Linked DNA regions of Homo sapiens: all the other regions are linked to region 1. Evidence: fine-mapped expression QTL. A gene starts in region 1. Each other region holds a variant in brackets. All regions are shown on one strand. Distances are from middle to middle.

Region 1 (8,176 bases):
AACCAATGTGATGGCCGGGTGTGGGGACCCTCGCCTGTAATCCCAGCACTTTGGGAGGCCAAGGAGGGAGGATTGCTTGAGACCAAGAGTTTGAGACCAACCTGGACAACATAGTGAGACCCTGTCTCTACAAAAAAATTTTTTAAAAATTAGCCAGGAATGGTGGCATGTGCCTGTAGACCCAGCTACTCAGTAGACTAAGGTGGGAGGATCGCTTGAGCCTAGGAGGTTGAGGCTGTAGTGAACTGTGAAACAACAACCAATGTGGCTACGTAATGAAATGGGGCTGGGCGGGGTGGCTCATGCCTGTAATCCCAGTACTTTGGGAGGCTGAAATGGGCAGATCACTTGAGCCCCAGAGTTCAAAACCAGCCTGAGCAATGTGGTAAAACACCATCTGTACAAAAAATACAAAAACTTGTTGGGGGTGGTGGTGCGTCTGTAGTCCCAGCTACTGGGGAGGTGGGAGGATTGCTTGAGCCCATGAGTTTGAGGCTGCAGTGAGCTATGATCACACCACTGCACTCCAGCCTAGGTGACAGAGTGAGACCTTGTCTCAAACAAAAAAATTTTAAATTTAAAAAAGATAAAAGAATGAATTGGCTGACTCTCAATCCACTGAGGGGTCAGGGATGGATGTTAAACATCCTCTACAGCTCATCTCATTGAGAAACTCTACACAGAAGATCCCTGAGAAACCTGCCGATGCCCACAAGCCCCAGCAACCCACCACCCCAAGTCACAGGTGGCCACGGAACCTCACTTGCACATGTCCCATTGTGGCAGCTGCTCCGGGATGTTGAGGGCCTTCCGCACGTACGGGTTGTTGAGGTAGGTGGAAGCAGCTGTTGTGTTGGTGCAGGGGGGGTCCATGCGCACTTTATCCCCTGAGCGCAGCAGTGCCTGGAAGGCACAGACAGTGGGTCAGGGCCTCTGCTTCCCTGCCCCTCCCCCTGCCCCCACCTCACCAGGAGGAAGCCCACGCCCTCGCACACCTGATGCCACATCCGCTTGAGTGGCAGGCGAGTGAAGATGTTGCCCAAATCCTGGACCACAACAGTGTCCTTCTCATACCTGCAATGTGAGGTGGGGGAATGGGTGTGGAGCCTCCAGATGGGGCTGGGGTTGGCTCCAGGGGCACCCAGCAGCACCTACCTAAAATGGCTGGGCACCCCTCCAGCACACGGGGCATAGAGATTGTAGATGTTGAGGCCAGAGTTGCCCACGATGCGGGCCACTTCCTGAAGCTGCAATGATACACCAAGCCACCATGCTTTACAGATCCCCAGCCTCTCCACGACCCCACCAAGTTGTCCCAAGATTTACTGCTCTTGGATTTCACCTCTTCACCCACTTTTTTTCACAGGTAGGGAAACTGAGGCTCAGTGGCAGGAATCTTCCCAGACCTGGGTCCAAATCCTAGCATCACTGCCTCCCAACACTGTGACTTCAGACAGTGATTTCAAAATTCATAGCCCTCAGTTTCCTTATCTGGAAAATGTGGGTAGTATGATCTCATTTGAGGGGGAATCTTGAAGCTTAAATAATCTACATAGACACAGTTCAGCACAGTGCCTGCCACGTTGCAGGTGTTTGATAAATGTGAAGAAGTCCTTTCTCCTCACGGAGGTTATGGGATTTGCCACCATAGGAGGTGGTGGTGGGAATACACACTTAGACACATGTCCCAGAGAACACTAAATTGCTTAAAGGTGCAAGAAAGCAATGAGGGACGGAGAACAAGGAGTCCCCAAGGAGGGAATGTGGTCCTGTTCTCAGGATTAGGGATGGGAGAGCTCATGCAAAGTGATGGCAGAACCTCACATTGGTCACGCATTCCAGGTCTTTGTTGTCATAGAAGTTACACTTGTTTTGAGAGCAGCAGTGGGTCTGGAGAGAAGACCAAAGCCTGTAGGAGATGAGAGTGAAAAGCGCATCAGCTGCTGGTGGGAAGAGGAAGGCAGAGGAGGCGAGCATACCCCCCACCTCCCACCAACCTCCCTGACCCTAGGAGACTGGGAAAGATATCACAGGGTGTGGTCTGTATGTCATCTAAGCTAGCTCCCAAAGAGGTGCCCCAGGGTCATACAGACAGGCCTCCTTAGTTCCTTTAAAATCTGATTTCTGGCTGGGCGCTGTAGCTCATGCCTGTAATCCCAGCACTTTGGGAAGATCATTTGAGGCCAGGAGTTCAAGTCCAGCCTGGCCAACACAGCAAAACCCCATCTCTACTAAAAATACAAAAAATTAGGCAGGTGTGGTGGTACGCGCCTGTAGTCCCAGCTGCCTGGGAGTCTGAGGCATGAGAATTGCTTGAACCTGGGAGGTGGAGGTTGCAGTGAGCTAAGATCGTGCCACTGCACTCCAGCCTGGGTGACAAAGTAAGAATCTGTCTCAAAAAAAAAAAAAAGAAAGAAAGAAAAACTGATCTCTATTCTTTGGCCTTTCAGCACTAGGTTCTTTCTGCAACCCACCTGCTGCTCATAAACCTGGGCTGGGCCTGTCATATCATGTGCCTGGAGGACAGACCTGAGATCATGTGACCTGCCTCACCCCAGAGATTGCCCAACTGCCCTATCCCATACCTGTTCCCCAGAAGGCCATGGTAGTAGGCAAAGTAGACCAGGGAGTTGTCATTCTGCTCATAGGAGGAGAGTCCATTGCCCACAGCCAGCCCCTGTGAAACACCCAGGGTGCTCAGCTCATGTGGAGGGCAAAAAGGAAGAGCCTCCCTCACCCTACCACCCAGACCTTCAGCAATCCGGAAGCTGAAACCCAGGGTGGTTTATGTAGGCCGGTGGGTATGAGAGGCCACTCAATGCAAAACACAGAGCTGGCAGCCTGACAGGTGAGTTTCCTGTGTGGGAGGCACACAGACAGACCTAGGGCAGCCGGTGGTGGGGAGGTTATGCAGGAAGCTGGGTTGGATGGGGACATTGACCAGTCAGTCTGACCTTGCTAACTGTAAGGCCACAGCCTCAAGCTACCTCCCTTCCCTCCTGCAGCTACCCTGCACCTGAAGGTTCATGCTGGGATCCTGCATGACCAGCACGGCCAGGGTGGGGATGTAGATGCCAGCATAGCTCTCCCCGGTCAGGAAAAGTTTGTTGTTCTTGTACTCCGGAAAGAGGCGGAAGAAATCTTGAAGGGCCTCAAAATTGCTCTGGGCGACCTGGGGATGGCAGAGCAAGACAGAGGGAATCAGGAAGCTTTGGTATTTGAACTGGAAAGAACTTCAGAGATAATGACATTAACCCACCCTATTTGTGCAAGAGGAAGTGACTGGCCACCATACCACAATAGCATATGACAGAGCGAAAAGTAGACTCCAAGGCCATGCTCTCTCTCCCAGCATCATGCCATGGATGGAGGACCGGGGAGCCTGGGGCAGATGGGCAGGCACCAGACTCACCTCAGTGTCATTAGTTGCATAAAACTTGTCATCGGAGTAGGAGAAGCCCACCCCAGCTGGGGACTCCAGGTATAACACATTGGCAATCTAGAGGGGAGGGAAAAATTAGCTAAATGCCACCCCATCCAAGTGCCCAGACACACCCACAGCTCCAGCTATACCAGATTCCAAGAATAGGGGTTGTACTCCAGGGTGACACCATCTGGCTGGACCTGAGGAGGAAAGAGATGGCTGAGTAAGTCCCAAGGGCCAGCTGGGTGGAGGGAAAGGGCCACCATGAGAGGCACTTTACATGTGGGTAAAACCTCTGAGAGGTACAGGCAGCAAAGCCAATGGCATAGAGGAAAATCCCGAGGCTTAGAAGGAAGGAAACTTTTTGGAAAATCACAAAGCCCCTCTCTCGCTTTCCCCAGCCTTTTACTTTGGGAACTGTGCTTTCCCCCTGCTGTCCACTCACCAGGAAGGGGCCATGCTCTGTGAGGAGCCCATCTAGTGAGCTGCAGCCGGGACCCCCATTGAGCCAAAGCACCACAGGGCTGTTCTCGGGATCCTTCTGGGACTCCACAAACCTGGGAGGGGGGTCAGGGCAGGGTTGGCGCAGTTGGAGGGGCCCTTTCCAGCCCTCCCGGCTCCCAGGCATCCTCAGGGGTCTGCAGAACTACCCCCCATCCCTCATCCGTCATCTCTTCTCCCAATCCCGCCCAGAAGGCAGGGCGGCAGACCAGTAGTGGAGGTGCTTGGAGCCGGAGCCTTTGAGGTAGCCGGAGTACTGGCGGAAAGACGGCTGCTTGGCCAGCCCGGGGAGGCGCTGGATCTCGTCCTGGTCGGGGGCTGCCTCGCCTCGGGACGCCCAGGACACTAGCAGCAGCAGCAGCAGCAGCAGCAGGAACAGCGGCGGCGGCGCGGCTCGGATCATCTACGGGAGGCAGCAGAGGGGCTGTTGACTCGCTCCTCAGCGCTTCCGTGCAGCAGCCCCCGGGGAGTTGCTGGCGGCGCCTCCGCGAGGGAAGCCCCGGCCCCAGCGCCAGCTCCCACCCGCGAGCCTCCTCTGCCGCGCACCGATCCCGGGCTCGGGGATCCCCTCCAGCCTCCGGTGCCAGCTCACCTCTGCTCCCCCGCGTCCTTGCTCTCCAGGAGGCGCCCGGGGACTGGAAGTCATGTGTACGAGTCACGTGAACTCCGGCGCCACGTGACAGTCTTCCTCCCGCCCCTTCTTTGGTCCCTACGGACCTGGGGGGCGGTGGCGGTCAATGCCGGGTCAAGGTCCGCGGGCCTCGCAGATCGTAGCCCGGGCGCACGCGATCAGATGATCCTGTTGTGGACGGCTAAGTTGTAGGCGGGATGGCTGAGAAAGCGGCGCTAGGACCCCCGGGCAGAGGCTCGGGGAAGGGAGTCAGGGGGGAAATGCCTTACAAGGTCGCCTTGCGGTCACCATCATTGCCCGCCGCCCAAAATAGCCCCCGGCGCCAGCTGGCCTGCCCTATGGCCGAGAGATGGCTGCTGCCTCCGAGCCCGTGGATTCGGGTGCACTCTGGGGACTCGAGCGCCCGGAGCCCCCTCCCACCCGCTTCCATCGGGTGCACGGTGCCAACATCCGCGTGGACCCCTCTGGGACGCGGGCCACACGCGTGGAGAGCTTCGCCCACGGCGTGTGCTTCAGCCGCGAGCCGCTGGCCCCGGGCCAGGTCTTCCTGGTCGAGATCGAGGAGAAAGAGCTGGGCTGGTGCGGACATCTGCGTCTCGGTCTGACCGCGCTGGACCCCGCCAGTCTGGCCCCCGTTCCCGAGTTTTCTCTGCCCGATCTGGTCAACCTGGGCCACACCTGGGTCTTCGCCATCACGCGCCACCACAACCGCGTGCCCCGGGAGGGCCGCCCGGAGGCGGAGGCAGCGGCCCCCAGCCGACCTCCAACCCTCCTCGTGGAACCATATCTGCGCATTGAGCAGTTTCGCATTCCCCGGGACCGCCTGGTGGGCCGCAGCCGGCCAGGGCTCTACAGCCATCTCTTGGACCAGCTCTATGAGCTGAACGTGCTGCCTCCGACCGCGCGCCGTAGCCGCCTGGGTGTCCTCTTTTGCCCGCGCCCCGATGGCACGGCCGACATGCACATCATCATCAACGGCGAGGACATGGGCCCGAGCGCCCGGGGACTGCCAGCTGCGCAGCCCCTCTACGCGGTGGTGGACGTGTTTGCTTCCACAAAGAGCGTGCGCCTTGTCCAGCTCGAGTATGGCTGTAGGTATCCCTGGGCAGCGACCCCTCCTGGCTCAGTGTGGGGACTGGAATCTACTAGGGCTCCGTAGCCCATGTGCTAGGCCTTCGTCTGTCCGGCACTAGTTTAAGAGTGGGAGAATCTAGCTTCAAATTGCACCTCTGCTTGTGATCTTGCACAAGCCTCTACATGGTTTTGGGCCTTGGTACCTATCTTGGTTGATTGATTAAGATGCCCTACAAGTTCCCTTTTAGTTTTGATAGTGTTTCCTGTATTCACCTAGGGCAGGGATTCTAAACCAATTTTAGATATTAGGGGCCTCTTTGAGAATTGTTTGCCCTTTTCTTAGAAACATGCTTGGCCGGGCACAGTGGCTCACACCTGTAATCCCAGCACTTTGGGAGGGGGAGGCAGGCAGATCACTTGAGGCCAGGAGTTCGAGACCAGCCTGGCCAACATGGTGAAAGCCTGTCTCTACTAAAAATACAAAAAGTAGCTGGGTGTGGTGGCATGTGCCAATAATCCCAGCTATTCAGAAGGCTGAGGCAGGAGAGTCACTTGAACCCGAGAGGTGGAGGTTGCAATGAGCCGAGATCTCACCAGTGCACTCCAGCCTAGGCAACAGAGCAAGACTCTGAAAAAAAAAAGAAAGAGAGAGAGAGAGGAAGAGAGAGAAAGCAAGCAAGCAAGCAAGCTAGCTAGCTCAAGCCTGGGCAACAAAGTGAGACCCCATCTGTACAAAAAATTAAATAATTATCTGGGCATGGTGGTGCATGCCTGTAGTCCCAGCTATTTGGGAGGCTAAGGCAGGAGGATCGCTTGAGCCCAAGAATTGAAGGCTGCAGTTCACTGAGCACTGCACTTCAGCCTGGGTGACAGAGCAAGACCCTCTCTCTTTAAATAAAAAAAAAAAAAGAAAGAAAAGAAAGAAACATGCTCATAGACTTGGGCATATTGGCTATTGGCTTCGAGGCATAACAAACCCCAGACTGAGAGCTTCTTAATGCTGAGTATGATTCATTATAGCCCTGGTAAGCATTGCAGTTATACCTCTCATCACATTTCATGAACTCAATGCACCAGAACCCTCTTTGTGCCAGGCCTGTGCTGGAGGCTTCAGTTGCACAGGCAAATCAGACACTACCCCTGCCCCCAGAAGCTGCTAAGTGAATGGGGAAGGGATTGTGCTAAGTGTTATGATATAAACAGGGCTGCAGCTTTGTGGCAGCTCTCAGGAAGAGGTGCTTCTCTCAGCCCCATGAAGCAGGCTGGGCCCAGAGAGCAGTAAGGACTTGCCCACATTTAATGACAAAGTGGGGACCATGACCTAGACCTTCTGGATCTTGGCCTCAGACCCACCCTCCAGTTCAGTTTGCCTTTCACAGTCTTCTTCCCACAGTGCCATCCCTGCAGACTCTGTGCCGCCTAGTGATACAAAGGAGCATGGTGCACCGGCTGGCCATTGATGGGCTCCACCTGCCCAAAGAACTTAAGGATTTCTGCAAGTATGAGTGAAGACCCACAGTGCACCAGAGCACAGCTGCATCCTGGAGCCCCAGACCTGTGGCTGGCTGGTCCGAAGTTGGCCACATTGCTGCCAGCCAAGACCAGAAATAAACAGCCGATGCTGACATCTTGATCACTGGAAGGTCTCCTTGCCCCTACAGCCTATGAGAGTCACTTCGTTTAGAATCACTGCAGGTCAGCAGGTCGGAGCAAAAGAGCAGGGGTCCCTAGGCTGGCTGCTTGTTAGAGTCATCTTAGGATATGTAAAGAGTGCTGGTGTCCCACATCCCATCCCTAGGGATTCGTATTTGATTTGTTGGGAAATTAGGCCTAGACATTGTGTTTTGTAAAAGCTTCTCAAGAGATTCTCATGTACAGCCAGGGTTGAGAAGTATGTCCCTAGAAAAAAGGTTCCAACTTTGTCATATATTATAATCACTTGAGGAATTTTGAAAAATACCAATACCTGGCCTGTAATCCCAGCACTTTGGGAGGCCGAGGTGGGCAGATCACTTGAGGTCAGGAGTTTGAGACCAGCCTGGCCAACATGGTGAAACCCTGTCTCTACTAAAAATACAAAAGTTAGCCAGGTGTGGTGGCAGGTTCCTGTAGTCCCAGCTACTCGGGAGGCTGAGGCAGGAGAATTGCATGAACCCAGGAGGCAGAGGTTGCAGTGAGCTGAGGTCTTGCTCCTGCACTCCAGCCTTCCAGTCATGGCGACAAAGTGAGACTCTGTCTCAAAAAAAGAAAAAGAAAAATACCAATACTGGGTCTGACCCGAAGTCTTACTCTACAAGGCACGAAGCACTTGGCTCCTGTGTTTCCATCTCTGGTCATCTGCTTCCATACAAATGATCTCATTTCATCCTCAAAACTCCTAATGAGGTAGTGGGCAGTCATCAGACACACTTTACAGATAAGGATATCAAGGAACAAAACTATCTGGGTGACTCGTTCAAGGTTAGGGCAAGAACCTAGAACACCCAGCTCCTGGTCTGGTGCTCTTTTAACCTCATCCTATTGTCATGTCCAGGTTCTAGAATGAA
Region 2 (8,176 bases), 38 kb after region 1:
GTTTATGAAAGCCATACTTTGTATTTGGGTTGCTGCAGCTGCTCAAAACAATGGGAGAAACTGCAGTTATAAATTCCAGAAAAGCCTGTGAATGGAGTGAAAGTGGAGTGGGTGGTCAAAAACCAATGGCCGTGGAGGCTTAGCTCTCTTCACAAGGCACACAGCAGGTGCTCAATGAGTGCCTGTTGAATGAATGGCCACGCAGCCCAATGCGTGCCTATGCACCCCTCCTCCTCCAGGCAGCCCTCCGGAGGTCCAGCCTCCTCCCCACCCTCTTGGCCCGCCCCGCCCCGCCCGCCCTTACAGGATGTCTTCGCGGATGGAGGTGCCATGGTTGAGGTTGTGGAAGCGGACGGAGACGCAGTCCCTGAGAATGAAGGAGCACCTGTTCTCCCTTTTGTAGGCGCTGAAGCACTCCTTGAAGTCCTCATAGGTCTTGAAGCAGCTGCCCAGCTCCATGGCCGCCCCCACAACCCACACTAGGGGCTGGTCCCAGCCCGGGCCCAAGATCACACCAGGGGTCAAAGGTCACACTATGAGGGTTTATAGGCAGGCGTGGGCCCAGAATGCCTTAAGGGTCCGCCCCAACTGGGTGGCCTATTCTGGAACTCAGGGAGGAACCCTAGGCCTGACCGGGTTACAAGAGGAAGGGGGTGTATTTGCTATCTGACAGGGGAAATGACACTCAGTCCATATTATCCAGTCCCGAGGTTCCGCCTCCTCAGCGACATATCCAGTCACACACAGGATTCGCAGATTGGCATTCATTTTCTCCAATTGCTAGAGAAAGAGGGCCACAGCCACCAGCGGACTGACAGGAGTCCTGACCAATCATAACCTAGATTCCTCCTTCCCGGGGTCTGCAGGAGACTTCCGGTTACTAGGGCAATCTGCCGGAAGAGTCAGGTTCTGTGTATGTCTCCGCGTCTTCCGCGGAGCGGGTGTGCAGGGCCTGCAGCATTGAACTAGATGTCGTCCCCGCAGGCCCCAGAAGATGGGCAGGGCTGTGGCGACCGCGGCGATCCCCCTGGGGACCTCCGTAGCGTCTTGGTCACGACCGTGCTCAACCTCGAGCCGCTGGACGAGGATCTCTTCAGGTAGCCGGCAGCTCCTGCCCAGCATCCCCTCCTTTAGGGCAGAAACTTGATCTTGACTGCCGCCGCCCGGGGCCCCTGGCTCCGGGACTAGTATGGCTCTGCGTGGGATGCACCCTCTGCCACGATTAGGAGAGAACTCGCCCCCAACAGAGCTGTCCTCTCTGCTCTGGCTTCCTCCCTTCCTCTCCGCGCTGCGAGGTCTGCACAGCTGAGCAAATATAGTGGTGACCTGAGAGACCCTGCTCGGCAGCCTGCCCTAAGCCTTCACGGGGGAGCTAGCCCAGAGAGGGCAGTGATTTGCCCAAGGGCACACAGCTGATGGATCAGCCTTAAAACCGACGCCGCAGCTCCTTGTGTCTTCAGTATCCTTTTCTTCTCACAATATCCCGCCCCCAGTACCATTTGGTGGGTCTGGTTTCTCATTACTTATTCTGAGGCCTAAGCATGTTTTTTTCTTTCCCAGCATCGCTGAAGTTCTTGACTGCAGCAAGGGTTTCTTTCTTTCTTTGAGGCGGAGTCTTGCTCTGTTGCCCAGGCTGGAGTGCAGTGGTGCGATCTCGGCTCAGTGCAACCTCCGCCTCCCGGGTTCAAGCATTTCTCCTGCCTCAGCCTCCTGATTAGCTGGGACATACAGGCGCGCCACAGCCCAGCTAATTTTTTAACTTCTTTTAGTAGAGACGGGGTTTCACCGTGTTGGCCAGGCTGGTCTCGAACTCCTGACCTTGTAATCTGCCCACCTCTGCCAAAGTGCTAGGATTACAGGCATGAGCCACCGCGCCCAGCCCCCTGCAGCAAGGCTTCTAACAGCTTTGACCTCCAAGGCTTCTCCTGGCTTTACTGGAAGTTATCTTACTTTGAGCTCCCTTCCTTCCACTTAAGGAATTGTAAATAACTTCTTGGAGGGCTATTTGATTTTTGTTTTTGAAGACAAGATCTGGCCCTGTTGTCCAGGCTGGAGTGCAGTGGCACGAACATGGCTCACTGCAACCTCGACCTCCTGGGCCCAAGTGACCCTTCTGCCTCAGTCTCCCGTTTAGCTGGGACCATAAGCGCTTGCCACCACATCCAGCTAACTTTTTTATTTTTAGTAGACATGAGGCCCCACTTTGGAGCCCAGGCTGGTTTTGAACTCATGGGCTCAGGCGATCCTCCCACCTCGGCTTCCCAAAGTGCTGGGATTGATTACAGGCGAGAGCCACCTGCCAGGTCATGGAGGGCTGTTCATAACTCATTGTTACAGAAAATGCCAAACAGCTGGGACGTGGGAGGCTAGAGACATAATTATTCAGCTTCCAATGGGCCTACATTCTGGGCAAGCATTTTCATCTCTGGGGCCAAGCTGCAGTTTTCTCATCTGTACACTGAAGGAGTTAGACTTGATGTCTGAGGGCTCTTGTTATTTATTCATTTATACATTTATTTAATTTTATTTTTTGAGATGGAGTCTTGCTCTGTCACCCAGGCTGGAGTGCAGTGGTGCGATCTTGGCTCACCTCAACCTCTGCCTCCTGGGTTCAAGTGATTCTCCTGCCTCAGCCTCCTGAGTAGCTGGGATTACAGGTGCATGCCACCACGTCCAGCTAATTTTTGTATTTTTAGTAGAGATGGAGTTTCACCATGTTGGCCAGGCTGCTCTTGAACTCCTGATCTCAAATGATCCACCTGCCTCGGCCTCCCAAAGTGCTGGGATTACAGATGTAAGCCACTGCGCCCGGCCCAGAGGATTTTTATGCATAAGGATATTTGCCTGGGGAAAGGACCTATGGCTTTTACCATATTCTCAAAAGGATCTTAAACCCCAATATGGTGAAGAGATCATGCATTAGAGTCTTAGTGAGGGTAGTAGAATTTGGCCCAGTTCCCAAGTCTTTCCCTCTTTCCCCCTCTCCCTACAGAGGAAGGCATTACTGGGTACCGGCCAAGAGGCTGTTTGGTGGTCAGATCGTGGGCCAGGCCCTGGTGGCTGCAGCCAAGTCTGTGAGTGAAGACGTCCACGTGCACTCCCTGCACTGCTACTTTGTTCGGGCAGGTAAACCCCCCACTTCCTGCCCCAACCCAACCCTGGTGGCCCAGCAGCCATTTCTGGCCTTGGGGGCTGAGGTCAAAAGGGAAGAGAGGGAGACTGGAAGACAAGGGGAGGGGTGGCGGACACTACCACCCTAAGAGGTGTCTAGGGTGGAACGAGGTCTGGGGCTAACAATGAGCCTTGGACCTCACACCTGCTGGGACTCACTGGGTACCTGATGTCTGGCTGATAATGACACAAGACTTTGTTGCTTAACTGCTCCTTGTGGGCTTTTGTTCTTCCATTCTTAACATAGCTCCTGGTGCGGAGCGCTGTGCTAGGTTCTCAGTGTGCTGTGACCTCTGTGCTAGAGGTGTGGAGGTAGGGCAGCTTGGGTTGGAGAAGAGAGCACCAGCCTGAGAGTCAAGGGATCTAAGGCTTCTTTTGTCAACTGAGCATAGGGTCAATAAAAACAAACCAAAGATGTAGGGCCTAGCTTCAGTTTTGTCCATAATTTACCATGCAGCCTTGTGAGGTTACCTCCCCGCCCTACAGTTTGGTTTACTTCAGCTGTAAAATGGAGAAGGGTGGGACCAAGGGTATTTTAGTGGGATGATCTCTACAGCTTCTTACAGCTCTGGGGTCAGATAATGTAACTTAAAACCTATGTGTGAGGCCGGGCGCGGTGGCTCACGCCTGTAATCCCAGCACTTTGGAGGCCAAGGCGGGCGGATCACGAGGTCAGGAGATCGGGACCATCCTAGCTAACACGGTGAAACCCCGTCTCTACTAAAAATATAAAAAAATTAGCCAGGTGTGGTGGTGGGTGCCTGTAGTCCCAGCTACTCGGGAGGCTGAGGCAGGAGAATGGTGTGAACCCGGAAGGCGGAGCTTGCAGTGAGCCAAGATCGTGCCACTGCACTCCAGCCTGGGCGAGCACTCCAGCCTGGGCAACAGAGCGAGACTCTGTCTCAAAAACAAAAAACCTATGTGTGGTGGCTCATGCCTATAATCCCCGCACATTGGGAGGCCAATGCGGAGAATTGTTGGAACCCAGGAATTCAAGACCAGCCAGGGCAATAAATCGAGACCTTGTCTCTACAAAAAAATAAATAAAAGGAAAATAAAAGCAAAACCTATGCTAAAAAACAAACAAAAAAA[AC/C]CCTCACTGTTTTCTTTCCTTCCCTGTTACCCCCAGAGCAGATGCCCTCATGTGTTCTGCGTAGATCCCCAGCTGAGAAGAGTTTGTGGACCTTTACAGTATGTGATTTGTATTAAGAAAACCATGGGGTTTCCCCCTTCATTTTGTAAATATGAAAGTTATCCCTGTAATGGTAAATACACTTTTTCATACTGTCCCGTGTCTCTTACTCCTCATCCCTGAGGAGTATTGATTGGCCCCCCTCTTCTCGGCCCCCAGTCACTGCTATAAAGTATTTGAATACTTACCTTGGGCTCAGCCAGGTTCTTATCTTTATGCTAGTTGGGAGTAAATATGTGCTTTGTTTCTTTAATTTGTTTGTAAGTACCAGCCTTTTGATATTGTAATCCTTCCAGCCTAGTGAAATACCTGGCTGTTTTCTTTTGTGTGGGTGGGGGCATTACTTGAACTCTGAATCTCTTCATCCTGTGATGGAAGAATTCAATGAGTCTTTGCCAGTAAAGTATCTAGTGCAGGGCTTGGCATAATCTAGTTTTCCATAAATATTATTAGTTTTTGATGATTAACTTATGGGAATAATTAAAATTTGCATGATACAGAGCATAGTTGTGTGCATTATCTTGTTTAGTCTTCATAAGTAAACATGGGTGGCAGGCATTCCTGCCATCATTCTTACCTAAGGAAACTGGGACCTGAAGAGGTTTGGAACCAGCTCCCACAGTGCCCAAGGAGGCAGAGCCAGGATTTGAACCTGGTTTATGTGTCTTTGAGTGCCAAACTCTTTCCTGCTTCTTTGCTTCGCTCTTGGGCAATAATTCTAAACAATGAGAGAGCTGCCAGGGTACCCATCCCAGGTTCTGGGGAAAAGATCCTCTTTCTTGGAAAGTCTTCATCCAGGAGCAGCGTGAAATGAGCTGTGTCCAAGCCACCATTTCAAAATAAATAATTATTTGGCCGGGCGTGGTGGCTCATGCCTGTAATCCTAGCACTTTGGGAAGCCGAGGCGGGCGGATCACCTGAGCTCAGGAGTTCGAGACCAGCCTGGGCAACATGGTGAAACCCAGTCTCTACTAAAATACTAAAAATTAGCCAGGCATGGCGGCATGTGCCTGTAGTCCCAGCTACTCAGGAGGCTGAGGTAGGAGAATTGCTTGAACTCAGGAGGCGGAGGTTGCAGTGAGCTGAGATCATGCTACTGTACTCCAGCCTGGGCGACAGAGCGAGACTCTTGTCTCCATCAAAAATAAATAAATAAATAAAAATAATTATTTGTGCCCTTGCTTGTGTCTTGAAAGGCTGCAAGATAGCTAAAATAATTGGTAGTTATTATGGGAATATTAAAAGTCAAAGGACATTAGGCCAGTAGTAATGGGATTTGGGAGAAGCGATCATGTCAAAAAATTTGGCTAAGCCATATTGTTGCAGTTTCATACAAGGTTTAGTTCTGAGCTTCCTGGCTGCAAGGCAAAAAGGGGAGAGCTCTTATCTGTTTGTGGTGTGACTCTGCCAGCTATATCAGATATTAAAACCAATGCTGTTTTTTGGCTGGGCATGTGGCTTATGCCTGTAATCCCAGGACTTTGGGAGGCCGAGGCGGGCAGATCGGCTGAGGTCAAGAGTTCGAGACCAGCCTGGACAATGTGGCGAAACTCCATCTCTACTAAAAAAAAAAAACACACACAAAAATTAGCCAGGTGTGGTGGTGCACACCTGTAGTCCTAGCTACTCAGGAGGCTGAGTCAGGAGAATCGCTTGAACCCTGGAGGTGGAGGTTGCAGTGAGCTGAGATCGTGCTACTGTACTCCAGCCTGGGTGACAGAGCAAGACTCCATCTAAAAAAAAAAAGGAAAATTAGCTGGGCGTGGTGACCTTAGCCCGTGATCCCAGCTACTCGGGAGGCTGAGGCTGAGGCTGAGGCAAGGAGAATTGCTTGAACCCGGCGGCTGGAGGTCGCAGTGAGCTAAAACTGCGCCACTGCACTCCCACCTGGGCGACAGATCGAGACTCCATCTCAAAAAAACAAAACAAAAAAGAGATGTTTCAATTACATTTTAAAAATAAAAGATGTTATGGGGGAGGGGGAGGGTTGGTCCTTGGCCATTTATCAAATCAGTTCTTTTTCTAAAAGCCCAGGAAAGAATGTGAATTAGTTGGGTTTTTGTTTTGTTTTTAGTTTTTCTCTACAGAGGTAAATTTAGAGCTTGAAGAATTCAGAACAAGGTCAGCAAACATTCTAGAAAGGGCCAGATAGTAAACATTTTAGGTTTTGCCAGTGAAAGCAACTATAGACAATATGTAAACAAATTAGCATGACTTTATTACAAAAAAATTGTATTTTAAGGCAACAGTTTCCTCATCTGTACAATGGGGGTAAGAGTGGCTCTACATAGTTATTGTGAGACCAACATGAGAAAACATACCCTCCTGTCCAATGCTGTCAGGCACCCTGCATCACTCCATAATCATTAACTCCCTTCAATATGCCTCAGGGCCTACCTGCTCTGTTCCAATAACAATTTTCAAGAATAGGGCTGGAACTCATTCACACTGAAAGGTAGACCAGAGTACTGAAGTTTCTGTGATCCTCCTCAGGAATCTGCACTTTAGCTTACCTGCAGACCAAGGATTGGATTAGAGGTTTTTTTTTGTTTTTTCCCCCCAAGTTTGGTGGTAGGGAGGAAGACTTCATTCCCAGTGTCTGAAAGCAGACTGCACAAGTAACTTTGTCTAGTGTCTGGACTCTTGGTAAGCCCTTCTCAAATGCCTTTAACCTTGAGGAGCTCGCACTCTGATAGAAGTGCTGCTGGTGGCAGTGCCTGATAACAGAGAGCTGAGCAAGCCAGTTGACCTCAGACAGTGATGTTTATTGCTGTTGATTGAGCCCTGGTGCCTGGTTGACTCCCCATTTGGATCAGAGTGAAGGAAGCAACACTTCTCTAGACCTGCTTCTTTCATCTGAAGGTTGAAAGTCATCCCCAAGATGTCTCATGGCCCAGATGTCAGGGTTCCTCAAGGTCAGCCTGACTCAGACAAAGTGAGAACTTCAGGGAAACCAGGGAAGTTCTCTTCCTCTCCAAATCTTCCCTCACCTGCTTGTTGTTGGCTGCCTTATCCCTGGCCAGTGCCTTCTACTCTGGTGGTGGTGGTCTTGTTGTTTTTGAGACAAGGTCTTGCTCTGTCACCTAGGCTGGAGCACAGTGACGCAGTCATGGCTCACTGCAGCCTTGATCTCCTGGCCTCAAGTGATCCTTCCGCCTCAGCCTCTTGATTAGCTGGGACTATAGGCACATGCCACCATGTCCAGCTAATTTTTATTTTTTATTTTTTGTAGAAACAGGGTCTCCCTGTGTTGCCTAGGCTCTTCCACTCTGCTTTGGAGCAGAGACACCTGACAGTGAAGGACCAAATGGCTTCCATATACATCAGGGGTGAAGTGACTGACAGTGGCCCTTGCCTGGGAGAGGCTGAATATACAAACAGACAATGGCTAGACCATGTAGAAAAACAGAACTCTGACGCACAATAGCAGCAACCAGCACAGGAAGCCAGCCTACTATCCACAAGTCAGACTTGTAGGAAGTCAGACCACTATCTTTACCAACCAGTCCAGCAAGCCAAATAATGACCACTGTAACAATTGGCCTCCAAAGCCAGGACTTGATTAATAACTGATAGCTGCCCTAATTTTTGCCCCTGCTTCCAACTTAGGACCAACCGGAGAAAGCCAAATATGTACTCCTAACCAATCACATAGGATGTCCCACTCTTTTTTGAGACAGAGTTTCACTCTTGTTCCCCAGGCTGGAGTGCAGTGGTGCAATTTCGGCTCACTGCAGCCTCCACCTCCCAGGTTCAAGCAGTTCTCCTGCCATAGCCTCCACCTCCCAGCTTCAAGCAATTCTCCTGCTGCAG
Region 3 (8,176 bases), 180 kb after region 1:
GCATGAGCCACTGTGCCCAGCCCCTATTCTTTCTTTTTTCAAATTTTATTTTATTGTGGTAAAAGCACTTAACATGAAGTCTACTGTTTTAACATATTTTTAAGTGTATGATACGTTTTTGTTGACTATAGGTACAGTGTTGTATACTAGATCCCTAGAGCTTATTTCTTTTGCTTGACTGAAACTTTATGCCTGTTAATTACTAATTATCCATTTCACCTCCACCCAGGCCCTGGCAACCACTGTTCCACTATTGATTCTATAAATTTGACTATTTTAGATACTTCATATAAGTGGAGTCGTGAAGTATTTATCTTCCTGTGACTGGCTTTTTTCACTTGGCATAATGTCCTCAAGGTTCATCTATGTTGTGACATATTGCAGAATTTCCTTTTTTTAAAAGGCTGAATAGTATTCCATTGTATGCATATACTACATTTCAAAAAAATGTCTTCATCTGTCAACGTACATAAGATTGTTTTCACATCTTGGCTGTTGTGACTAGTGCTGCAATGAACATAGAGGTGCTAAGTGTTAATATCTCTTTGAGATCCTGATTTCAGTAATTTTGAATAAATATTCAAAAGTGGGATTAGTGGATCACATGGTAGTTCAATTTTTAATTTTAAAAGGAACATTCACTCTGTTTTGCATAGTGGCTGCACCATTTTGAATTCCCACTAATGGTGTGCAAGGGTTTCCTTTTCTCCATATCCTTGCCAACACTTATCTTTTGTTTTGATAATAGGCACCTGGCAGGTGTGATGTCATAGCTCATGTGGTTTTGATTTGCATTTTCATAATGATTAATGATGTTGAACATCTTTTCATAGACTTGTTGGCCATTTGTATGTCTTTGAAAAAATGTCTGTTTGGGGACTTTTACTATTTTTTTATTTTTTATTTTTTGTTATTGAGTTGTAGGAGTTCTTTATATATTTTGCATATTAACTGTTATCAAATGTATTTTTTACAAAGATTTTCTCCATTCCATAGGTTGCATTTTCATTTTGTTGATTGTTTCCTTTGCTGTGCAGAAAATGTGGTCTCCCTTATTTGTGTTTTTGTTTCTTGTGCTTTTGGTTTCAAATAAAAAAAAATCATTGTCCAGACCAATGGAACTTTGTCCCTATGTTTTCTTCTAAGAGTTTTACAGTTTCAGGTCTTATGTTTAAGTCTTTAGTCCATTTTGAATTGATTTTTGTGTATGGTGTAAGTTTTCCTAACATCATTTAATGAAGAGATTATCCTTTCCCCATTGTATATTCTTGGTGCCTTTGTTGGAAGTTAGTTGACTGTACGTGCAAGGGTTTAATTCTGGGCTCTCTATTCTGTTTCGTTGCCATATGTGTCTGTTTTTATGCTAGTACCATACTGTTTGGATTACTGTAGTTTGCAATATAGTTTAAAATCATGACGTGTGATGCTTCCAGCTTTGTCCTTTTTGCTCAGAATTTCTTTAGCTATTCAGTGTCTTTTGTGGCTCACATGAATTTTAGGATTGTTTTTTCTATTTCTGTGAAAATATCTTTGGAATTTTGTTAGAGATTGCATTGAATCTGTGGAGTAATTTAAGCATTATGAACATTTTAACAATATTAATTTCTCCAACTCATGAACATGGGATATCTTTTCATTTTTTGTGTGTCATCTATACTTTCTTTTATCAATATTCTATAGTTTTTAGTGTACAGATCCTTCACCTCTTTGGTTATATTTACTCCTATTTTATTCTTTTTGATGCTATTGTAAATGGGATTATTTTTCTTGATTTCTTTTATGGATAGTTTGTAGTTAGTGTAGAGAAATTCAACTAATTTTTGTATATTGATGATTTTATCCTGCACTTTTATTGAATTTATTAATTCTAACAGTTATTTTTGTTATCAAGTCTTTAGAGTTTTGTATACATAAGATGCTATCTGTAAACAGAGACAATTTTCCTATTGGAAAATTTCCTGTTGGATGCCTTTTATTTGTTCTTCTTGCCTAATCTTTCTGGATAGGATTTCAAGTATTTTGTTGAATAGAAGCGGTGAGAGTAGGCATCCTTGTCTTATTCCTGATCTTAGAGGCAAAGCTTTCAGCTTTTCATCATTGAGTATGATGTTAGCTATGGGCTTGTTATACATGGCCTTTGTTATATAGAGATACGTGGCTTGTATACCTAATTCGTTGAGAGCTTTTATTATGAAAAAAATGTTGAATTTTTCTCAAGTGCTTTTTCTTTCTTTCTTTCTTTTTTTTTCTTTTGGAGACAAAGTTTTACTCTTTCATCCAGGCTGGAGTGAAGTAGCATGATCTCGGCTCACTGCAACATCCACCCCCTGGATTCAAGCAATTCCCCTGCCTCAATATTTTAGCATTTTATCCTTTCTCATCTCATTAAAAGGTACTTACTTATTGAGCTCCTGCTATATTTCAGTAACTATTCTCAATGTTGGGTATATAGAAATGAATTAAAGTTTTGTCCTCAAAAGTTGTATACGAGTCTTGGCTGCAAGGCTGGGAAGCAGAACCCATGAACAAACAAGATTTCACCTTCAAAATTGTAAATTCCATTCCTAACACAGCCAAACCCACCTTTCCCAGCAAACCTAAAATTATGTTGGATTGTTGACTAAGCACTTATAGGAGGCAGTGACAGAGTACAAGAGTGCTCTCCAAAGGGCCATAGTCTTCATATTTATCTTCTTCCCAGGTGACAGCAAGAAAAAGTGACTCTTTTTTCATTGTGTCTCCCAAGTATCCTTATTGACTTGGTATAGCCCCTACTGAACTACTGATCTTTCACCATCTCTGCTGGGATGGACTGAGAAGAGAACTCCCAGCAAGAATTTGCAAGATATCCATAAGCATTGTTATTTTTTGAACAGTTTTATTCTGGCTTCATTGTGGCCAAATTCTTGTCTCTTAGCTTTTCATCTTTATTCACTCCCCTGGGGAAGAGTTGGACCTATCTATTAGAGCATCTTTTCCAAGATTCCCCATGCCTGTCACTTGTTCTTAATAAACTAAATAAACTCATGATTGGCTGAAACATCCCTTCAAGATTTCATCCTGGAGGGTCAGCCTGTCCTGTGTGGTTGTGTGTCAGGTACTTTCCAGTCCAGCCATGTTCCCTTCAAAGCAAGTTGATACTGCTGAGTTACTGGTTATTTAATTAAGCCTCCCAACCACCAGACTACAATCAAGAACTTAGTATCACAAATTACGTAAGGTAAGTGGTGTTATCTCTATTTTAAGCATGAAAAATTCAAGTTTTGAAGAATTTAGATGATGTGCCATAGTAGCACAACTATGGTTAAGTGAGAAGTCATGGTGTATAGATTATATTCACTGATGAAGGGGTGAAAATCCATTTTTCTTCTTCCTTAATGCCATTCCTTATATCTCACCCTTTGCAGTAAGTCCTCAAAATGTTAACAATAATCATAACCATTCATATTTCTGTCACAGTGCGTACAACATATTTTTATGCATATTATATTGTTTAATCTTTTTGTACAGTCTTGTGAAAATGAAGAACAATTGCTTATGCTGTTTTCCTAATGAGGAACACAAGGCTCACTGGTACAGAGTTGGAAGGAATGGAGGCAAGCAGAGAAAGGCCCAGGCTTTGTGGAGCTTGATGCTTGTATAATTATGGATACCTTGTTTTAGAAAAATAATGCAGAACTACTAATACAAAATTAGACACGTAAGTGAATATTTATTTGAAATGAAAAAGAAATTGCAACAAATTACAAACTTAACAAAAGCTTACGAATATATCAAATATCATGAATCCCAGGAAAATAACACTTTATTATTATTATTTTAAATACCTTTATAATACCTTTTTAATATTTTATGGCTGATTATTTTTGATTGTCTCTTCTTATGACTATAGTTTTTATATCATTTCTGTAGAGAGAACAGAAGGATAATTCAATCTTTGCTCTAGCATGGTTGATCAAAAATTTAAAGTTATTATTGGTAGTTTAGGAAAGATTATTTCCATTTCCATAACTTATCAGTAATGCCACACTGTCATGTCCTCTGCAGTTTCTGGCTCAGGTGGTGCTACATGCCGGGGGCAAGACCTTGGAGAGTTCTAGCCCTTTGATTTTGATTTCATGGCACCTTATTGCAGCCTCTTAGTCACTGATCCAACTCTATCAGGTCCTCACCACCCCCACTGTGCCTGTCCTGGGTTCATGATATGGCCATGAAGCCTTGAAGGCTGGCCCCAAGGAGGTTGCCATGCAGTGTCTGGTTGATATTTCTCCTTGAGGTTAAATATGGGATCA[A/G]TTAGCCTGATGAGTGCAACCAAGGGCAGGTAATCAGTGAGGGTTGTCCAGATGTTGATGTGGTAGGTCCTTAAGACCACCACCAGGGCACACACAGCATCCCTGGACTGGAACAGTGCTGCTTGTCTCTATGCCAAAGTGGGGTTTCTGATTCCTCTCCTCATCCCAGGAGGAAACTGTGCTGAGCTTTGGAAGGGGCTCTTGCAAGTGTTGACCTAAAGCTTAAGCTTCAAGAGTTTTATGGTAGATTAGCCTTTATTGCCAAACTCAAAAACGATTTGCAGGTTAGATATTGGGCCTCCAGTTTCTTGCTTCTCAATACCTTCCTAAAGGTGGACCAAGAAAAAACATCGTAGAGGCCTGTGGGGAAGGAAAGATAATTAGTCCATTTATTCTTCTTGATTCTTTAAACATCCTTGGACATCATGTTGGGTCTCTAGAGAATTACTGTCATTGAACTGTCTGTTGTCAGGCTATGCTTAGGAACTCCTTAAAGAAATAGCCCCCAAAAACTTTTCCTGGAGTCTAACATGAGGCTGTCATAGAGGGTGTCCTCTGTCATGATCACCTTTAATTAGCCATCATTTTTTAGACATCAGCTTTATGTAGCTTAAAGCAATGCTTTCCATTAGAACTTTCTGTGTTCTGTATTTATAATGTGTAATATGGTAGCTACTAACCACATGTGGTTATTAAACACTTGAAATGGAAAATAAGGCTAAGGAACTGATTGAATATTTTATTTTATTGTAATTCATATGAATTAACATTTAAATAGCCTCTCGTGACCAGTGCCTACAGTATTGGATAGATCAAACTCAGATTATTAAAACAGTGATAGCCAACCTGTATGTAAGAGACCTGCCTCACTCAGGTCAACTCGAACCACATATGGTCAGTTTCTGGTAGTAAAAGAGTCTATAGATTTTTCTGAACAGTATTTCCTGCCCTGGATCAGGGGTCACTAGGTTATGGTAGGCCAAAGATAGGACACTACAAAAGACAAAGAGAGGGACTAATTCTGTCTGGAGTGAACTGGTGAAGTTTCTATGGAGTGTTTAATTTAATAGAAACCTTGAAGCATGAGTGGGAGCTCATCCGCAGCATGGTGGGCTCACCGGAGCCTGGGCAAGTGCTCATGCGTCTAAACTGCTCCACTGGCCTCCACCTGCTACTATTTATCACGCTCCTTTGTACAGGGTTAATAAAAGGACTAAGCTGAAAGACCACCATTCTAATTTGGAACATCTGGAGACATCAGAAGGCCCATTAGAAGACCCTAAACTTCTAACTTTTTCTTTCAAATACTCTGAAACGAAATCCACCAACTTATGAATACTATCATTTTTTTGGTGGTGGAATTCCACAGGACTCCATTTTGTTCACCATTCTTGAAGCATCAGTAAAATAATAAAGATGATTCCCACTCCCTCTTTTTTTTTTTTTGAGACGGAGTCTCACTCTGTCGCCCAGGCTGGAGTGCAATGGTGCACTCTTGGCTCACTGCAACCTCTGCCTCCTGGGTTCAAGCAATTCTCCTGCTTCAGCCTCCTGAGTAGCTGGGATTCCAGGTGTGCACCATCACACCCAACTAATTTTTGTATTTTTAGTAGAGACAGGGTTTCACTCTGTTGGTCAGGCTGGTCTTGAACTCCTGACCTCGTGATCCGTCCACCTTGGCCTCCGAAAGTGCTGGGGTTACAGGTGTGAGTCACCATACCCGGCCCACTCCCTCTTTTTTCAGAGAAAAAACTGGAACCTGAATGAGTGACCTTGTAAGTGAGTTGCTGGCAGTTTCTACCTTTGCAGAGACCAAGTTCTTCCATCTACATGGCCTTGTGTTGTCCTCCCAATACCCCAAGGCATGGATGTTTTCTTCATATTTCACATGAGGGAGGTGACTGTCTCAGAGAGGTACAGTGAGCAGACCAAAGTCTCAGAGCGTGAAGGGCTCAGCTTGAGTCCCTGCCCAGGGTGCTGTCAACCCGGAGGCTAGAAGAGCTTGTTCCTTGACAAAGCCTCAGATCTGAGTGCCCTGGGTTCCCCCTGGGCCATGACTTGGTTCCTTACATTGCTCTGTGTTGCAGAATTCATGCTGGACTGCACCGTGCCTCCCCCAGGGAGTGCAAAGATAGCCCTTGGAGGGGAATGATGGAGGAGGAGGCAATCAGGTAATGAGAGGCCATTCTGAGCTTGTGGGAATGTAGTGCCCCTGGTGAGGCTACAGGAAGAAAGTGAGCATCCCTGGGAATCTCACATGAGGAAGGCGAGACCAAATCCCTGTACTTACAAAATGATCTAGGAAATATGCCTCAGTTGGCAGGCATGATGACTTCTGAGCCCTTGTGTTTGATTCTGTAGAAGAAAAATATTTTCAAATATTAACTAGTGAAGTTTTACTTTTAGAGATATATATTTTTCTTTCAATTACTTCCACCATTAATATTAGACCATGAAGCTCATTTCTCTTGCCATAGGGAAGGCAGAACCTCAAAAAACTCAATGACACCAAAGAGTTATATTTATGCTTCTGCATTCCAATGTAGAGCATTGAAAGATGTGGAATTTAATTGCAAGGGCTAGTCTCTTCAAAGAGAAGTGGTTGCCTAATCCCCAAAATTCACAGCAATTATGTTGGCAAGTAATGTTTTAAAGCTTACATGGATTGTCTATTTTAACCTCACTATTATTGTTCCAGTCTTAAGGATGAGGAAGTTGATGCCCAGAGAGAGGTTAATTAGCTTGTCTAAGATCACTTAAGGTCACTTAGCTAAGAAGCCAGGATTTGAGCCCAGGTGTTTGGCTTTGAGCCCATGCTTAATCACTCTGCACATTATCTCATGCTGGGTATTCTGCTCATGGTAGGGAATACAGCAGGGAACAAGACTGCCAGGCTTCCCTCAAAGGGCTCATTGGTTGAGTCTTCCACTGTGAGTCTTTTGAAATTTCATATGGGCCTTGCAAAGCAGGAAAAAACAAGAGTACTTATTTTACTCATGAGAAAAAGAAAGTAAAAAAGAGGGAATTGTCTTACTCAAGGTCATAGAAAGACATAGTTGCAAGATGGGATTAGAAACCATATGTCTCATCAGCACCCTATGTCCTTTCTCTGCCCTGGGAGCACACTCCATTTAGCAGGCTTGCGGCTAGTGTTAATGTCTGGACAATTAATCAAAACTTCCTTTGGGCTGGATCTCCAGAGCCCAAGAACACTGGTGGCCAAAGGATGGTGTCTTGTGAAAGGAGGGCAAGCAAAAGTGTAGGACAAATTTTGCTTTGGGATTTTGGTTACACCTGCAGGTACAGTGTCCCTGGGATAAGGGTGGATTCTGGGTCGGGGGAAGGTCTGTGGATAAAGGCATTTGTGGGTGTGTTCAGAGAGGCAGAGTCAGAAATTCACGGATATGGTGATGGGATGTGGTGATTGGGAGGGGAGGAGGGCTTTTCTAATCAGGACTTTTATGGAAATTATCCTTGGTCAAGAGAAGGGGCATGTTGGCAACATGGCCACCAAGGAAAAAAAAAAAAAAGGAGAGATCCAGCACAGTTGCTGGTAAGGGACTCTTCTGCTGGGCTCCCACCAGCAGCTCTAGGATCAGACCTGGATATGAGATATCTCTTACCTGTTGCGCTTTTGAAATGTTTCTGATGAACAGACTATCCCACAGAAGGAGGAACAGCACTGAAATCCTTTCTCGCAATCTTCCTGCATTGTACACAGGTGAGTACAGTTTTCAGGTGCTGATATGCAGGGTGGAGGTTCCAAGATATACTCTGGAACACAGAACAAGTAAGAGAAGGGCCTCACCAACAGGCTGGAGTAATGTTCAGAACTCAGAAAGCCCAGGGAACTGCCAGGAAACCTGCCACCCTCATCTGCCTTG

The links. PIP is the estimated chance that this variant, and not a neighbour inherited with it, causes the effect.
Region 2: its variant is fine-mapped to the expression of CTSA in whole blood (TOPMed, PIP 0.97).
Region 3: its variant is fine-mapped to the expression of CTSA in whole blood (TOPMed, PIP above 0.99).

What each region holds. Positions count from the first base shown.
Region 1 is chr20:45,887,721-45,895,896 of GRCh38, reverse strand. CTSA (cathepsin A) reads right to left here and starts at 4,562. Exons shown (of 15, transcript NM_000308.4): 1 at 4,518-4,562; 2 at 4,135-4,328; 3 at 3,870-3,981; 4 at 3,574-3,624; 5 at 3,413-3,499; 6 at 3,017-3,172; 7 at 2,586-2,677; 8 at 1,825-1,909; 9 at 1,156-1,247; 10 at 996-1,074; 11 at 764-903. The coding sequence starts at 4,328. NEURL2 (neuralized E3 ubiquitin protein ligase 2) reads left to right here and starts at 4,689. Exons shown (of 2, transcript NM_080749.4): 1 at 4,689-5,647; 2 at 7,024-7,263. The coding sequence starts at 4,906. The coding sequence ends at 7,139. It also overlaps a transcript of SPATA25 not described here. RefSeq lists enhancers at 4,226-4,275, 4,515-5,224 and a silencer at 4,316-4,585.
Region 2 is chr20:45,850,109-45,858,284 of GRCh38, reverse strand. ACOT8 (acyl-CoA thioesterase 8) reads left to right here and starts at 893. Exons shown (of 6, transcript NM_005469.4): 1 at 893-1,097; 2 at 2,993-3,126. The coding sequence starts at 970. ZSWIM3 (zinc finger SWIM-type containing 3) reads right to left here and starts at 671. Exons shown (of 2, transcript NM_080752.4): 1 at 305-671. The coding sequence starts at 459. RefSeq lists enhancers at 3,030-3,559, 3,560-4,089, 4,090-4,619. The variant AC/C (reference allele first, on the strand shown) is at 4,264.
Region 3 is chr20:45,704,334-45,712,509 of GRCh38, reverse strand. WFDC10B (WAP four-disulfide core domain 10B) reads left to right here and starts at 7,491. Exons shown (of 4, transcript NM_172006.2): 1 at 7,491-7,592; 2 at 7,949-8,013. WFDC13 (WAP four-disulfide core domain 13) reads right to left here. Exons shown (of 4, transcript NM_172005.2): 2 at 7,916-8,066; 3 at 6,583-6,647; 4 at 3,693-4,652. The coding sequence ends at 6,605. MIR3617 (microRNA 3617) reads left to right here and starts at 7,330; the gene lies at 7,330-7,408. The variant A/G (reference allele first, on the strand shown) is at 4,293.